Regions from separate parts of the Homo sapiens genome. Here region 2 is linked to region 1. Evidence: fine-mapped expression QTL. A gene starts in region 1. The other region holds a variant in brackets. All regions are shown on one strand. Distances are between the middles of the regions.

Region 1 (4,379 bases):
CCCATTCCTTCTAATGGAAATCTACTTTTTAAAAATTACCTCTGCAAGCATTAGATCCCAGAGCTCGTTTCACGTGACTTTTTGCGCAGGCACTTCTCTTTGTACGTGAAAAACTAACTTTGGTAGACTTACAGGCAGGTTTTAATATTTTCTCGTGATTGTATGTTTTTGAGAATCCTGTCAAATGATACTGAATCTTATCTAGATGTTAGCTAGCTACAGACCCTGTTTCATTCTACATGAAAATTAGATAGTGCACCGTTTCCATCAGCAGCCAAGTCTCCAAAACCCCGTAATTGCTCTCCTTTTCTTCAGCTGTATCTTGTTTTAAAGTTCTCTAATTCACCATTCCTTTCCTTCTAAGTTTAGCCTAAGCATTTCTTGCAATGACCAAAGTTTTCTAATTATTAATGAGATATTTAAGGAAATGTAAAATTGGCATTTTTATTTTGCTAACTGTATTTTTATCCACATAACTAGTTTCCCCCACCAAGAATCACAGGTCGAGAATGCTGTAAAAACGGATCCTTTCTCAGCTCCTAAAAGGAATGGCCTACAATCGAAGCGAACGCGCATCTCCGCCAGGTCCGCAACCACAGGCCCACGCCGTCGGGCCCCACGAACCGGCGCGCGCTGTCAAAGGCGCTTCCTCCCTGGAACGCGGGATTCCGGGGACAGTGTGTGCACTCAAGTTGAAAAGTTGTCATACTCCTGTTGGAAAGAAACGGAAACATCACCACCAGGAGGGTGGCCACTGAAGACCCTCGCCGACACCTGCTGGCAACCAAAGGCGCTTCCGGGGATCTACGGGCCGACCTGTAACTCAACACAAGCCTCCCAAGCCCTGCGGCCTTAAAACAACGCCCACCCGGGCGGTGCGCCGTTCCCGCCACCTCCACGCCTGCCTGGACCCGGACTCGAGACCCTGGCGGCGGGCCGGGCTCCCTCCGCCTGAGCAGGGACGCGGCGAGCGCATCCCACGACCCTCGGCAGCCGTTGCAGGCCTGGCGGACCTACACCCCACACCCTCACGGCCGCGTTCCCGCCGCGGGGCAGGGCGAGGCCCACGGCGCCTGCGCACTCAGTGACCGGGCCGCCCTGCGCCTCCGTGCGCACGCAGCACCACGTGACCCACTGCCAGTATCCAAGATGGACGCCGCGGCGAGGCCTGGCCGGCTCCCCGCGTTAGCCTGCACCCCATTGTGTGCCCTCTAAGCGCGAATTAGGCTCGCAGACATGCGGTGCTGACCGCTAGGCAGCCATGCGGGCTACCGAGTGCGACCGGACACGGCCGGGGCCCGTGTTTACGGCCACTACTGGCCCCCGGTCCCTGCGCCTCCTCAACCGCGAAGCACCCAGCGGCTGGCGCCTGGAGCGTCTTTTGGTACGCCCCACCCTCTAGAATTGGCAGCTCCAGCAGCCAATGAGGTCCAGGACGCGTGCGGGGAGGCGGGCAGGGGTGGAGCCTCTCTGCCGCTCATAGGGCATCCGGCCCCGCGGTTGAGCAGCCGCTGGGCGAGGGGTGGGAGCAGACGGGCTGTGCGCAGGTTTCAGCGGGCCAATGGAAGGCCGGCCAGGCGCCCGGGGCGGGCGGGCGGGAGGCGGGGCCGAGCCGTAATTGACGAGCTCTTCATTAGAAACCAGGCGGGAGGGCGGGGCCCGCAAGGGGAGGTGACGCAAGGCTGCCGCAGCCAATGGTTGGCGAGCCGCCGGCTGGCTGGGCGGGGCCGGGCCGGCTGACGGGCGTGCGGGGTGGCCTATCGCCGCCTGGCTCGACGCTGGAGTGGGGAGAAGCATCATGGTTCAACGTGGGTCAATTTTTTGTGAATGAGGAGGGGAGGTTGTGGGGCCGCCGCCGCGGAGCACCGTCCCCGCCGCCGCCCGAGCCCGAGCCCGAGCCCGCGCACCCGCCCGCGCCGCCGCCGCCGCCGCCCGAACAGCCTCCCAGCCTGGGCCCCCGGCGGCGCCGTGGCCGCGTCCCGGCTGTCGCCGCCCGAGCCCGAGCCCGCGCGCCGGCGGGTGGCGGCGCAGGCTGAGGAGATGCGGCGCGGAGCGCCGGAGCAGGGCTAGAGCCGGCCGCCGCCGCCCGCCGCGGTAAGCGCAGCCCCGGCCCGGCGCCCGCGGGCCATTGTCCGCCGCCCGCCCCGCGCCCCGCGCAGCCTGCAGGCCTTGGAGCCCGCGGCAGGTGGACGCCGCCGGTCCACACCCGCCCCGCGCGCGGCCGTGGGAGGCGGGGGCCAGCGCTGGCCGCGCGCCGTGGGACCCGCCGGTCCCCAGGGCCGCCCGGCCCCTTCTGGACCTTTCCACCCGCGCCGCGAGGCGGCTTCGCCCGCCGGGGCGGGGGCGCGGGGGTGGGCACGGCAGGCAGCGGCGCCGTCTCCCGGTGCGGGGCCCGCGCCCCCCGAGCAGGTGGGCTCCGGGCCGCCGGGAGTGAGGGCGGGGGCGGGCGGGCGCCGGGGCCGGCCGGGCGCCGTTTATGTAACTTTGTCAAATGCTGTGAGTTTGCAGAAAAACGTCCCTGCCGGGGGTCCGCGGCCCCGCGCTTGTCGTCGCCGCTGCGAGCGCCCGGGGGGTCGCGGGAGGGCGGGGGGCTGCCCGGGACCCGCTCGGCTCAGCCCGCAGGGCGCCAGCAGGCCGAGACGGGGCCCGGTCCCGCTCGGGGGTGGGATCCGCGTTTGCCGGCGTTGCGAAAACACACCACGGAATCATAAGCAAATTATCTCGTATTTACATTGAGCGTTGAATTATTTGACACTGTTATAGGAGGAGACCGTGCGTATCAGTTGGAAAGGCCGGGGGTGGAACCCAGTGTACTCATTTAATGCACATCAAAAATTTGTAATAACTTGAGGCAGCTGATATGAGTGTTTTCTTTATTGCATGTTGTAAATTGACCTGCTGTGACACAGTTTTCAAATAAAGCGTTGCAGAAATTAAACTTAAGTTATTTTAAAACTAATGACTTTCTTCACTAAATCCTAATTGCATGACTGTAGAGACCTACCTAATTGCTTGCTGAGAGCAGTTCTGCTTGCTCTCCGTGAGGGAGGAAAGGGCCTGTGCAGTCACTTTGCCGCCCCGTTTTTCTCTGTTCAGGCTTTTCTGTTTATTCCCACAAATCACCGAAGCAGTTAAGGCCTGGGAGTAAGCCTGTAAACAGTCCTGGCCCAGCGCCAGCCCAGCAGGACTGGGGGGATACTGGCAGGTTTGCACCTTGACCTGGTTTCACTTTTTCTTTTGTAATATGATCGTGGTTGCCTGGAGTTTTAATTGCTTCTGATAATTCTGTGCATTATTTTCGGGACTGTCCAAAGAAGGCTGGTGTGGTGGTTTCAGGACCTAGCCAGGAAAGGTGGTGGTGGTGGCTGGGGAGAGGGAGGGTGGAAGGGAGGGAGATCGAATTAAGAAAACTCAGCTGCTTGTACACAAATATACACTACAGCAGTTACAAAGCAACAAAAGTTATTGCAGAATTTTGCAGTAACTATGGCAACACAATTACTCTATTATAATTGGAAATGCAAAATGCCACCGAGTTAGAAGTTTCATCAGAATGGAGTTTTGGATATCAAAAATATGTGAAATTTAATTTTTTTTCAGGTAGCTCTTGTGAATTCTAAAATCTGTGTTCAATTACCTATTTTTAAGACTGATCGGGCTTTCCCAGATATTCTACTCTCTGGGATCTGTGGCATCTTTCCCCAGAAGAACTCACATTTGTGTGGGAGGGAAGTATTTTCATGCCTTAAAAACACACACCCCAACACATTGTAAGACTTCTATAGCTTTCTGTGTTCTGGGCTTTTATTTTAGAGATCAAATCCCATCCTAAAGAGAGCAGTAATCAATTAGAAAAGAAGCCGGCTGTACTCAGCAGGCAGATGTAACGCTGCCCTCTTTAGGGTTCTTTCTCCTGCAAGGGGAGCTGGCAGCAGGCATGCCCCCGGGGGAGCCCTGGGCTAAGGGGACGGGGTGGAGGGAAGATGACTGGACTGCATATGGGCCTGGAAGGCCTAGGGACGAAGGACAGATGTGGCCTCGGAGCCCTGCACCAGAGAGAATGTTCTGTGTTCAGCAGCTTCCTAGCCATGCAAAATAAAAATCCCCAAATGCCATATTCTCGGAGGCCTTGGGGGCTGTTGCTGTAGCAAGATGGACAGGACAACCTGGCACGCTGGCCACGTGCGGCTCAGGCAGCCCATCTGGACTCTGTGGCCAGAGACCTCGTTGAGAAGAATGCCCTATGGATGTTTACCAGGAGGACTCTAGTGCTGGAAGTTTCCACACATTGTGGGGTTGCTGCAGTTTAATTTTGTTATAACTCTTTCCTTTTAACTACTGCATATTTATGCCCAGTAATCGACTTCCATTCTCCAGCT
Region 2 (4,379 bases), 120 kb after region 1:
TTTGCAGAGTGGTGTGTACATTGTAGAGTGGTGTGTACATTGTAGAGTGGGGTGTACATTGTTTGTAGAGTGGTGTGTACATTGTCGAGTGGTGTGTACATTGTTTGCAGAGTGGTGTGTACATTGTAGAGTGGTGTGTTCATTGTGTGTAGAGTGGTGTGTACATTGAGAGTGGTGTGTACATTGAGAGTGGTGTGTACATTGTAGAGTGGTATGTTCATTGTGTGTAGAGTGGTGTGTACATTGAGAGTGGTATGTACATTGAGAGTGCTGTGTACATTGTAGAGTGGTGTGTACATTGTAGAGTGGTGTGTACATTGTGTGGAGAGTGGTGTGTGCATTGTAGAGTGGTGTGTACATTGTGTGGAGAGTGGTGTGTACATTGTAGAGTGGTGTGTACATTGTGTGTAGAGTGGTGTGTACATTGTAGAGTGGTGTGTACATTGTGTGTAGAGTGGTGTGTACATTGTAGAGTGGTGTGTACATTGTGTAGAGAGGTGTGTACATTGTAGAGTGGTGTGTACATTGTGTGTAGAGTGGTGTGTTCAGTGTAGAGTGGTGTGTTCATTGTAGCATGGTGTGTACATTGTAGAGTGGTGTGTAGAGTGGGGTGTTCATTGTAGAGTGGTGTATACATTGTGTGTAGAGTGGTGGGTAAATTGTAGAGTGGCATGTACATGGTGTGTAGAGTGGTGTGTTCATTGTAGAGTGGTGTGTACACTGCGTGTAGAGTGGTGTGTTCATTGTAGAGTGGTGTGTACATTGTTTGCAGAGTGGTGTGTACATTGTGTGTAGTGTGGTGTGTTCATTGTAGAGTGGTATGTACATTGAGAGTGGTGTGTACATTGTGTGTAGAGTGGTGTGTTCATTGTAGAGTGGTGTGTACATTGAGAGTGGTGTGTACATTGTAGAGTGGTGTATATATTGTGTGTAGAGTGGTGGGTAAATTGTAGAGTGGCGTGTACATTGTGTGTAGAGTGGTGTGTTCATTGTAGAGTGGGGTGTACACTGCGTGTAGAGTAGTGTGTACATTGCAGAGTGGTGTGTACATTGTTTGCAGAGTGGTGTGTACATTGTAGAGTGGTGTGTACATTGTGTGTAGAGTGGTGTGTACATTGTGTGGAGAGTGGTGTGTACATTGTAGAGTGGTGTGTACATTGTGTGTAGAGTGGTGTGTTCAGTGTAGAGTGGTGTGTTCATTGTAGCATGGTGTGTACATTGTAGAGTGGTGTGTACATTGTAGAGTGGTGTGTAGAGTGGTGTGTTCATTGTAGAGTGGTGTATACATTGTGTGTAGAGTGGTGGGTAAATTGTAGAGTGGCATGTACATGGTGTGTAGAGTGGTGTGTTCATTGTAGAGTGGTGTGTACATTGTTTGCAGAGTGGTGTGTACATTGTGTGTAGAGTGGTGTGTTCATTGTAGAGTGGTGTGTTCATTGTGTGTAGAGTGGTGTGTACATTGTGTGGAGAGTGGTGTGTACATTGTGTGTAGAGTGGTGTGTTCATTGTAGAGGGGTGTGTACATTGAGAGTGGTGTGTACATTGTGTGTAGAGTGGTGTGTTCATTGTAGAGTGGTGTGTACATTGAGAGTGGTGTGTACATTGTGTGTAGAGTGGTGTGTACATTGAGAGTCGTGTGTACATTAAGAGTGGTGTGTACATTGTAGAGTGGTATGTACATTGAGAGTGGTGTGTACATTGAGAGTGGTGTGTACATTGTGTGTAGAGTGGTGTGTTCATTGTAGAGTGGTGTGTACATTGTAGAGTGGTGTGTACATTGTGTGGAGAGTGGTGTGTACATTGTAGAGTGGTGTGTACATTGTGTGGAGAGTGGTGTGTACATTGTAGAGGTGTGTACATTGTGTGGAGAGTGGTGTGTACATTGTAGAGTGGTGTGTACATTGTGTGTAGAGTGGTGTGTTCATTGTAGAGTGGTGTGTACATTGTGGAGTGGTGTACATGGTTTACACACGTGTGTGCATGGGGACAAGACTTGGATGGAGTTTGCCATCCCCTGTTAACAGCAGACAGTTCCAGGATGTTGCGTCGCATCTTTGTTGTGCCTGGTGTCTTCCTCACGCGGGAGAGAGGCCCCCGAGCCTCCTGGCAGAGGCCACAATGCACCTGCTCCCACAATGTTTTCCTTACCCTTTTTAAGTTGCTTGGAGGCTTCAGCATTTGGGACCAGGTGGGGAGGCGTGCAGTGCCCGGGTCACCTGCCTGCCTTCTGTGCCCCTGGCTCGCCCATCGGAGGGACCAGTCGGCACGGCTGAGTCATGCTGACTCAATGTTTCATACAGTGGAGCTGGCTTCCCAGAAACAGCTCTGTATTCCTCTAATGTTCTTCGTGCATGTAACGTGAAGTGGAGTTTGGGGCAAAATGTGCTTTCAGGGC[T/A]TGTGGCCTTCTTTCCTTCTTTAACACAGCGTCTCGGGAGTACGAGGCACTCGCACATCAGCTTTGCCCCCACTCTTGGGTTGCTGGCATTGTTAAAAACGAGAGAATATAAGGTAGAAATTTCCAGATGCCTTTTTTTTTCTTTGACCAACATGTTTTTCAGGGTTGATGCCACAAGAACCAGCACATGTCTCAAGTGGCATAAGGAGATTTCATCAGCATGGCCAGTTCTTAGCTGACGAGCTGGAATCCCAGGGTGCTAGGAAACACAGGCACTTTGGGGTTGGGGGGTGCTGTCCTCTTCCGCAGGAGTGGAAGGGATGAGATGCTCCCGAGAGGTGGGATCCGCACTTTCTGTGGACCACAGTTATTGATCCTAGAATTCGGGGAGGGAAACGTCAGACAGGCCACTCATGGTTTGTGGCCACTTTGGAAACATTAGGGAAGGGTCCTGGGGAAGGCGTGGAGAAGCCCGGTGAGAGCTGGCCATTCATCCTGAGGGCGCGGTTTCCACCTGGACTCTCGTGGTGAGGGTAGGGGACACTCCTCACTCAGTCGCCCCCATCCCATGCCCCCTGCGGGCCTGGCCTGGTGTGGCTGGTTCTTGTCCCCAGGTCCCCTGCTCTCAGGAGACCTTCATTTGTGGGAGGCACTGTGGGGGCTGTGTGAGATTTCTGGCTTCTGCTGCTGCTGGAGCTGTCCCAGCTCACTCCACCCTGGGCTGCTCCCACCCCTGCCCTTCTGCTCCTCACCCCGACAGTGTCCTCTCTAGGGAGAGGTTTTCTGCTGGGACGTTGGAGAGAGGACAGACTTCAGAGGCAGAGAGACGGGCCTGAACCCCAGCTTTTCTGCCTAGATATTGGGAGCATTACTTAGTTTCTTTGAACCTTGATTTTCTCGTCTGTAAGATGGATGTAGTAGAACTGCCTCATGAGTTTATTATAAGGCTGAGGGGATCAAGTGTGAATTTAGTGCCTGGTGCCAGTTTGTTCATTGATCCCTCTAATGAGTCATTTGTTCAGTCACTGTTTTCAGCTCAGAGACGTGAGCATCTCCTGGTCAGGCACAGACCTCAGGCTTTGCCTTCTTAGCAGCCCAGAGTCTCCTGGGAGAAACAGCAAATCAGGCACTTTGCTTTTGCAAGCAAAAGCCATTATGAAATTTGAGTTTGCTGATGCCCTGGAATCAGGAGGGGAGCCCTCCGGCCTGTGGGCCCTGCTGCCCCATTACCTCCAACCACTTTCCCCGCCTGGGGCAGGGTGTGGCCCCACACCAGCCCCACTTTTCTTTCTTTCTGGTTTTTCAGTCCTGCCGGCAGCATAGTCTTTTTATTTGTTTGTTTGGAAGAGATAGGGTCTGACACTATTGCCCAGGCTGGCCTCGAGCTCTTGGGCTCCAGGCGCCCTCCTGAGTAGCTGGGACTACATGTCCACACTACTGCACCTGGCTTCAGGAGTGTGGTCTTCCCGGCCCCGGCCCCAATGGTCCTCATGTTTAAAGAGGAAGAGAGCCACACTGATGGGCAGGAAAGCCGTTTCCTGAAGGAAGGTCCAGAGCCACCTTAGAAGGTGAATTAAAGCAAACCACAGCCTTCGGCCACTTATTTTGACTGACATGTGGTACAAAACATGTTTTTTGTTTTTATTGAGACAGTCTCCCTCTGTCACCCAGGCTGGAGTACAGTGGCATGATCTCGCCTCACTGCAGCCTCTGTCTCCTGGGCTCAGGCGATCCTGCTGCGGCCTTCTGAGTAGCTGGGACTACAGCTGCTCATCACCATGCCCGGCTAATTTTTGTCTTTTAGTAGAGATGGTGTCTTGCCATGTTGGCCAAGCTGGTCTCGAACTCCTGGGCTCAAGCAATCTGCCTGCCTCAGCCTCCCAGAATGCTGAGATTATAGGCGTGAGCCCTTGTCCTGGCCCAAAATATGTTTTTACATTTTAAAAATTATCCTTTTCTTTACCAATTAGATTGTCAATTTTTT

What was found. PIP is the estimated chance that this variant, and not a neighbour inherited with it, causes the effect. A credible set is the group of variants that fine-mapping cannot tell apart.
Region 2: its variant is the best candidate, but not a certain one, in a credible set for the expression of HDAC4 in whole blood (TOPMed, PIP 0.63).

Annotation. Positions count from the first base shown.
Region 1 is chr2:239,398,407-239,402,785 of GRCh38, reverse strand. It overlaps HDAC4 (histone deacetylase 4), which reads left to right and starts at 1,766. Exons shown (of 27, transcript NM_001378414.1): 1 at 1,766-1,808. It overlaps HDAC4-AS1 (HDAC4 antisense RNA 1), which reads right to left and starts at 1,350. Exons shown (of 2, transcript NR_135575.1): 1 at 1,250-1,350; 2 at 429-711. RefSeq lists an enhancer at 558-687 and silencers at 818-1,087, 1,358-1,477, 1,498-1,937, 1,948-2,117.
Region 2 is chr2:239,278,332-239,282,710 of GRCh38, reverse strand. All of the region lies in intron 2 of HDAC4 (histone deacetylase 4), which reads left to right. Among named protein-coding and RNA genes, the nearest start is that of MIR4269, 25 kb to the left of the region's middle. The variant T/A (reference allele first, on the strand shown) is at 2,396.